Homo sapiens: one gene and its partner. The protein of the gene in region 1 interacts with the protein of each later gene in a pairwise test. Each region holds a gene or a part of one and is shown on either strand. Other genes may lie near its edges. The genes, in order: RRAS2 and LGALS4.

Region 1 (3,815 bases):
TAAGGAAGGCACGGTGGAATTAATATCCTAAAGACCATTTTCCCCAACCAGAAAAAAAGGCGTGTCAAGTGGCATCACAAAATCTGTTTCAATTTTAAAGACCAACTTTAATTTGAAAAAGAAACTTTTAAAATATATATATATAGAGAGAGAGAGAGAGAGAGAGAGGGAGAGAGAGAGAGAGAGACATTTTTTTTTTTTGAGATATAGTCTTGCTGTGTTGCCCAGGCTGGAGTGCAGTGGCATGATCTCCGCCCACTACAACCCTCCGACTCCCAGGTTCAAGCAGTTCTCCTGCCTCAGCTCCTGAGTAGTAGCTGGGATTGCAGGCGCCCGCCACCACACCCAGCTAATTTTTGTATTTTTAGTAGAGACAGGGTTTCACCATGTTGGCCACGCTGGTCTCAAACTCCTGACTTCAAGTGATCCGCCCGCCTCAGCCTCTCAAAGTGCTGGGATTACAGGCATGAGCCACCGTGCCCAGCTAAAATTTTTTTTAATAGCTTTAAGAAAGTCTCTTCCCACTCTACTCCCCCAATTTAAAGTTATCAATTTATTTTCCTAACTGAATGGAGCAGACTATTTTTATTCAAAGCTTAGGAAAGACCATGATATTTCAGCAATCAGATGAATTAAAATCCCATCCCGGTAAGCAGTAGCCTGTTATCTACCAAGGGAAAGCAGTATTCTTGACCTACTCAACAAAAGTGCTCCCACTCGGCCAGGCATGGTGCAGGCCCAGGCGGGTGGATCACCTGAGGTCAGGAGTTCATGACCACCCTGGCCAACATGGTGAAACTCCACCTCTACTAAAAATACAAAATTAGCTGAGTGTTGTGGCACATGCCTGTCTATAATCCCAGCTACTTGGGAGGCTGAGGCTGGAGAATCGCTTGAACCTAGGATGTGGAGGCTGCAGATAGCCAAGATCACGCCATTGCACCACTGCACTCTAGCCTGAACAAGAGCGAAACTTCGTCTCAAAAAAAAAAAAAAAGTGTCCCCACTCAATTCCTACAACTTCCTTATCCCAAAACAGGGGTACGCATGCACACAAACACACACACACAGAGACAGACACAAAGAGAAAGAGAATGAACAAAACAAGAATAAGACGTAAGTTAAGAAACTGCAGGTTAAAATTTCCTTCTTCTCCAAAGGCAGTCATCCTCTATAAGAAAATGTTCTTCCTTGGGTGTACAGAAATTTTATCTAGGAATTGCCTGCAGGACCATTTCAACTGTTCCCCAAACAAGAAAACCTTTAGTATGGTACCACTTTGGGGGCAGGTGTCTTATTTCTCAATGCTAACAATTCATTTGTACATTAATGTTAAAAAAGTTTAAACACTAAAAATGTCTAGTTTCAAAATAATAGATAAAAGTTAACAGTTTAAGTAGTTTCTAATTGCAGGAAAAATCTTCGAGATGTAGCAATGGAACAGCAAATTGGGAATTTAAACTCACAACCTTCACATGTGGATCAATTAACTATTAACACAAATCTCCTGAAATCTCTTCTCGGCTCTCTGCCCCAGGAAAAAGCAATGAAAAAGTACTCAGCAAAAGACAAACTTTTAAAAAGCAATGCTGGGTCCAGACTAACAGGTCATAGGACTGACTGAAATTCAAGACGTGAGAAATCAGCTAACCCCTACCTACCTCAAAATCTGGCAAATTGTTGAATAAAAAGTTAATATGCTAAAAAAAATATATAAACCTCCCTGTAAATTTTTAAAACATATATGGCCTTTTCTCAGAGTTACCAGATAAAGCACTAACCCCAAAATTAAATGCTTACCTCATTATTTCTTAAAATTAAATCCAAACTGACAAAAAGAAATTTCTCCAACTCAAAACGGAATCCACATTCATCACCTGAATACCACACAGAAGTAAGGAGGGGAGTATAGGGTTGAGCCAGGAAGGAGAGGGCAATGAAGACTTAAAGTAATAGACCAGATTATGTGTCAAAGAAAAATGAAAAAATTACAAATTTTGTTTTGGAGGAACACCAAGATACAGAACTAACAGCAGCAAATAAAACCAAGTAACAATTTCTTTTTTTTTTTTTTTTTTTTTGAGACAAGAGTCTCACTCTGCTGCCCAGGCTGGAGTGCAGTGGCGCAACCTTGACTCACTGCGACCTCCACCTCCCAGGTTCAAGTGATTCTCTTGACTCAGCCTCCCGAGTAACTGGGATTACAAGCACGCACCAACACGCCCGGCTAATTTTTGTATTTTTAGTAGAGGTGGGGTTTCACCATGTTGGCCAGACTGGTCTCAAACTCCTGACCTCAAGTGATCCACCCACCTTGGCCTCCCAAAATGCTGGGATTACAGGTGTGAGCCACCACGCCCAGCCAACAATTCTTATTTGCTTACTCTGTAGATGGCACGGTGCTGGATGATTTACCTGCATTATTTTATTTACTCCAAAAACCCTAAGGGTACTATTATTTAATGTTATTCTCCCTTCTCAAATGGTGAAACTTGGGTTTAGAGAACCTAAGAAACTTGACTAAACACACAGCTAGTTAAATGAATAAAAAAAAAAAAACACTCCTAGAATTTCAAAAGTGCAGAAATTTGTTCAACCAAACCCAACATTTCATGGGGAAGAAAGAGAAGCTCAGTCGAGATAAAGGCAGATTAAGAAACTACTCAAAGTCACCTGGGTAGAGAGACATAGACCCCACACACCCAGCAGTCTCTCCTAACCACTCTGTACCATCCTGAAGTCATTTCCTACCTAGAGTTTACTTAACATTTAGGTGTTCTACCTACCAACAGAACTTTACACATTTTTCAAAGAAATATGAGCAACAGAAAGGAGGAGGTAATGTACACACACATATTCATTAAATAACATAATACTTTACATTTTATCATGGCTACTTTATGATTTGTTATATTTATTTTTAAAAAGGAAAAGGTATCTCAATTTAATTATCTTAGTTCCCTAATTTTGCAACTCTTCATATGAACAGAAGGTAACAACTAAATCTAAGTCAAAGAAAGTTAGGGTAAAAGGCATTGTTTTTAAATTCTCCGTTCCCAATTTTATATTTTTTTCTGCTCAAAATCACATAGTAGAAAATATATATACTGAAAATTGTAAAAACAGTCTGGTGTTTCAGGAGTCTTAAAAAAGTAAGTCCAATTTGTGCCATTCTAATCTCCTACCAAGAGAACTGACTTCTGCTTATTAAAATGATTAGTCTGCTGTGTTCTCTCCCTCCAGTTACTACTGCTAAACAATCATGGTGGAATGAATTTTAACATTCCAGGAGTCAGGCAATGAATAGCTACCCTATTAAGTGTAAATATAAAAAAATCGCTTTAGCTCCATAATCTAAAATTAATATAAAAATGTATGCAGCTTTACTACAGACTGTACTAGACACTGTTCTAAGCCCTTGACATGTTAACTCATTTAATTTCACAGCTATATGTGGTCCACCATATTTCCCCAGTTTACAGATGGGGAAAACTAAGGTACAGAGAAGTTAAGTAACCTGCCTAAAATTACACATGCAGCAAGTGGTAGAGCTGAGACTGCATCCAGGTGGTCGGGTTCCTGTCTCTCCAAAAAGGCTCCTTTTTGCAGAGACCAGATCACAGGTCCCAAATCAACTATCAATCCCACTTCCCCACTTGCCACCTCCTCTCTCCAAACTAGCATATGACTCCCACATATGACATTTCCATTCTCCCCACCACCAAGCCTACATAATGCTTTCATCAATTTTTTCCACAGACTTCTCTGAGTCTGAATTCCCTTTGCATTTAAACATGTTACAGAACTGTAGGCAT
Region 2 (3,815 bases), on another chromosome or scaffold:
ACGCCCAGGCTGGAGTGTAGTGGCATAATCTCAGCTCACTGCAACCTCTGCCTCCTAGGTTCAAGCAATTCTGCTGCCTCAGCCTTCCTAGTAGCTGGGATTACAGGTGTGCGCCACCACACCTGGCTAACTTTTGTCATTTTAGTAGAGACGGGGATTCATCATGTTGACCAGGCTGATCTGGAACTCTTGACCTCAAGTGATCCACCTGCCTTGGCCTCCCAAAGGGCTGGGATTATAGGCATGAGCCACCGTGTCTGGCCAAGAATAAATTTTCTTTTTCTTTTCTTTTTCTTTTTTTTTTTTTTTTTTTTTTTTTGAGATGGAGTCTCGTTCTGTCACCAGGTTGGAGTACTGTGGCACGATCCCGGCTCACTGCAACCTCCGACTCCCTGGTTCAAGCGATTCTCCTGCCTCAGCTTCCTGAGTAGCTGGGATTACAGGCGCGCGCCACCATGCCCAGCTAATTTTTGTATTTTTAGTAGAGACAGAGTTTCACTATGCTGGCCAGGATGGTCTCGATCGATCTCCTGACCTCGTGATCTGTCCGCCTTGGCATCCCAAAGTGCTGGGATTACAGGCGTGAGCCACCATGTCCAGCCCAAGAACAAATTTTCTGAGAGGTCCCACTCCTCCTGGAAAACATCCCCAATTCCTTCTGCTCCCTAAACCTGACCACGAACTCTATCTACCCTTCCCCTACCTCCCACCCCAAAACCCTCAGCCCACTCCCTTTCTGGCTGTCTCAGATTCCCTGGAGATCCGTGCCCCCTCCCCACCATCCATCTCTGTTTCCCCAAGCCATACCGGGTTGAAGGTTGGGGGTCCTTCCATGGTCTGTGAAGTGAGGAAGAAGCGATATTATTCTCCAAGAGTCGACAGATATCTATGACACACCCATTAGACTCCGGCGTTTCTCTAGGTGCTGGGTTAGTACACCTTGGGCTGCAACCCCTCTTAGCTCCCCCTACCCCAATTCTCACCATTCCCACTCCTCACCCGGGGCCCTCCCAGCCCTCCCACTCACGGGCAGGCTGTTCAGCTGTTGATGGCAATGTCCGGGACCCTGAACGATGGACAGAAGGCAGGAAGGGTGAGAGGGGCTGAGGGACCCCACTAGGGAGGAAGACCCTCACCTATCAGCAAGTACTTACAGGGTAAGGTGGCATCATCGGGGGTCCCTGTGGGCACAGAAAGAGAAAGCGGTTATGAGAGGGTCCCCAGATTTGCGACTGAAAGATGTCGAGAGTGCCTGCCCTGGGGTGGCCCACCACCACCACCACTATGCCAGAGAACTCTGGCATCAAAGGGTGGCACCCCGATCACAGATTCACGGAGAGGGGCACCCCATGTTCTGGGATCGCTGATGCCCAGTGAGTCACCCCAAAGCTTTAGGACAATGCTTGGTCCATTTTGTTCTCTGTGCCCTTCCCCTTGCTGTCTTCCTGCTGTCCCGGGGCCCTCACTCGCTGATCTTGATCTCAGTTTCTGCCTCTGTCCCTGTGTCTCTGCCTCTCTCTCTGTCTTGGCCACACCTCAGCGCAGGGGCTTCCTTCTGCCAAACACTTTTATTTATTTATTTGAGATGGAATTTCGCTCTTGTTGCCCAGGGTGCCGTGCAGTGGCACGATCTCTGCTCACCTCAACCTCTGCCTCCTGGGTTCAAGTGATTCTCCTGCCTCAGCCTCCGGTGTAGCTGGGATTACAAGCATGCGCCACCACGCCCAGCTAATTTTGTATTTTTAATAGAGATGGGGTTTCTCCATGTTGGTCAGGCTGGTCTCAAACTCCCGACCTCAGGTGATCCGCTCGCCTCACCCTCCCAAGTCTAACACCTTTAACTTTTACTCTCTCTCTTTCTCTCTGTTACCTTCTCTTTTCTCCTCCTTGTAATTAACTCCATTCTGCCTTGACTTCTATTCTCAGCCAGCTATTCTGAAGGCCTTTTAAAAGTAGCTTTATATAGCCGGGCGTGGTGGCAGGTGCCTGTAATCACAGCTACTTGGGAGGCTGAGGAAGAATTCCTTAAACCTGGGAGGCAGAGGGTGCAGTGAGCTGAGATCATGCCACTGCACTCCAACCTGGGCCACAGAGCAAGACTCCATCTAAAAAAAAAACAAAAAACAAAAAACAAACAAACAAATAAACGTAGCTTTATAAGCCGGGGGCTGTGGCTCACGCCTGTAATCTCAGGACTTTGGGAGGCTGAGGTGGGTGGATCACCTGAGGTCAGGAGTTCAAGACCAGCCTGGACAACATAGGAAAATTCCTCCCCTCTGTCTTTACAAAAAATTTAAAAACTAGCTGGGGCTGGTGGTGCGTGCCTGTAGTCCCAGCTACTCAGGAGACTGAGGTGGGAGGATCACTTGAACCCAGGAAGTCAAGAATACAGTAGGCTGTGATTGCACCACCACACTCCAGCCTGGGTGACAGAGCCAGACCCTGCCTCAAAAATAATAATAATAATAATAATAATAATAATAATAATAATAATATTGATAAACTCAATTTAATTGTATGTTATTTATTTTTAATGATTGTGTTAAGCAACCTCTAGGGAATTCATTCACTATCGTGTGTTCTTTGCCTTTCCTTATCCTCACTTTCTGACTCACCTTACACACTTCCTCCTACTCCAGGAAGCACTTCCTTCCTGACCCATGACTAGTCAAGCCCTTCCTGTAGGCTCCCAAACCTCCTGTATACTCCATATCCCAGCCCCTGCCCCTCTGCCTGTGCCCTCCCTATCACAGACCTGACCATTTCTGGGCTGTCACTCTCTGATGCCATGTCTGTGAGCCCAGTGAGGTCAGGGCCCAGAGATATCTCAGTCATTCCTGTCTCCAGCCCTGGGCCTGACCCCTCTGCCTGCCTCCACCCACCCTCCTGTCCTGGCCCTGATCCCTCTGTCTGGGCCCAAACCCAACTGCAACCCTTCAGCCAGGGCCTCCCCATCCCGGCCTTTATCCCTTGCAGTGATGGGTCTGTCTTCCCAGTGGGATCCCTTGATCATCACTGGGCTCTTGGCATAACTCAGCAGAGGGAGATGCTTGGGAAATAAATGAATGTGGAATGCGCTGGGCACCATGGCTCACACCTGTAATCCCAGCACTCTGGGAGACTGTAGCCAGCAGATCACTTGAGGCCAGGAGTTCCAGACCAGCCTGGCCAACATGGTGAAACCCCGTCTCTACTAAAAATACAAAAATTAGCCAGATGTGATGGTGGGTGCCTGTAATCCCAGCTACTTGGGAGGCTGAGGCAGGAGAATTGCTTAAAACTGGGAGGCAGAGGTTGCAGTGAGCCAGAATCACACCACTGTACTCCAGCCTGGGAGACAGAGCAAGACTCCATCTCAAAAAGAAAAAATAGACCAACTGCGGTGGCTCACGCCTGTAATCCCAGCACTTTGGGAAGTCGAGGTGGGTGGATCATGAGGTAAGGAGATCGAGACCATCTTGGCTAACACAGTGAAACCCTGTCTCTACTAAAAATACAAAAAAATTAGCCGGGCGTGGTGGCAGGCTCCTGTAGTCCCAGCTATTTGGGAGGCTGAGGCAGGAGAATGGCGTGAACCTGGGAGGCGGAGCTTGCAGTGAGCCAAGATCGCGCCACTGCACTCCAACCTGGGCGACAGAGTGAGACTCCGTCTCAAAAAAAAAAGAAAAAAAGAAAAAAAGAAAAAAAATGAATGTGGAACTGAATTTAGAAAGAAAGGACGCAAGAAGGGATGGGACCCCTCACACCTGGGGCCGGAGGGGCTGGCCTCCGATGAAGTTGATTGATTGAAGTTGCAGATCCCCATCCACTTGCAG

Evidence for each region.
Region 2: the proteins of RRAS2 (region 1) and LGALS4 interact in a two-hybrid assay, tested with the Homo sapiens proteins (one large-scale study listed by BioGRID and IntAct).

What each region holds. Positions count from the first base shown.
Region 1 is NC_000011.10:14,352,613-14,356,427, forward strand, and holds part of RRAS2 (ras-related protein R-Ras2), read right to left. Parts: intron 1-3,815. UniProt on the Homo sapiens protein: GTP-binding protein with GTPase activity, involved in the regulation of MAPK signaling pathway and thereby controlling multiple cellular processes. Regulates craniofacial development.
Region 2 is NC_000019.10:38,802,715-38,806,529, forward strand, and holds part of LGALS4 (galectin-4), read right to left. Parts: coding exon 3,747-3,815; intron 1,182-3,746; coding exon 1,155-1,181; intron 1,067-1,154; coding exon 1,028-1,066; intron 838-1,027; coding exon 808-837; intron 1-807. UniProt on the Homo sapiens protein: Galectin that binds lactose and a related range of sugars. May be involved in the assembly of adherens junctions.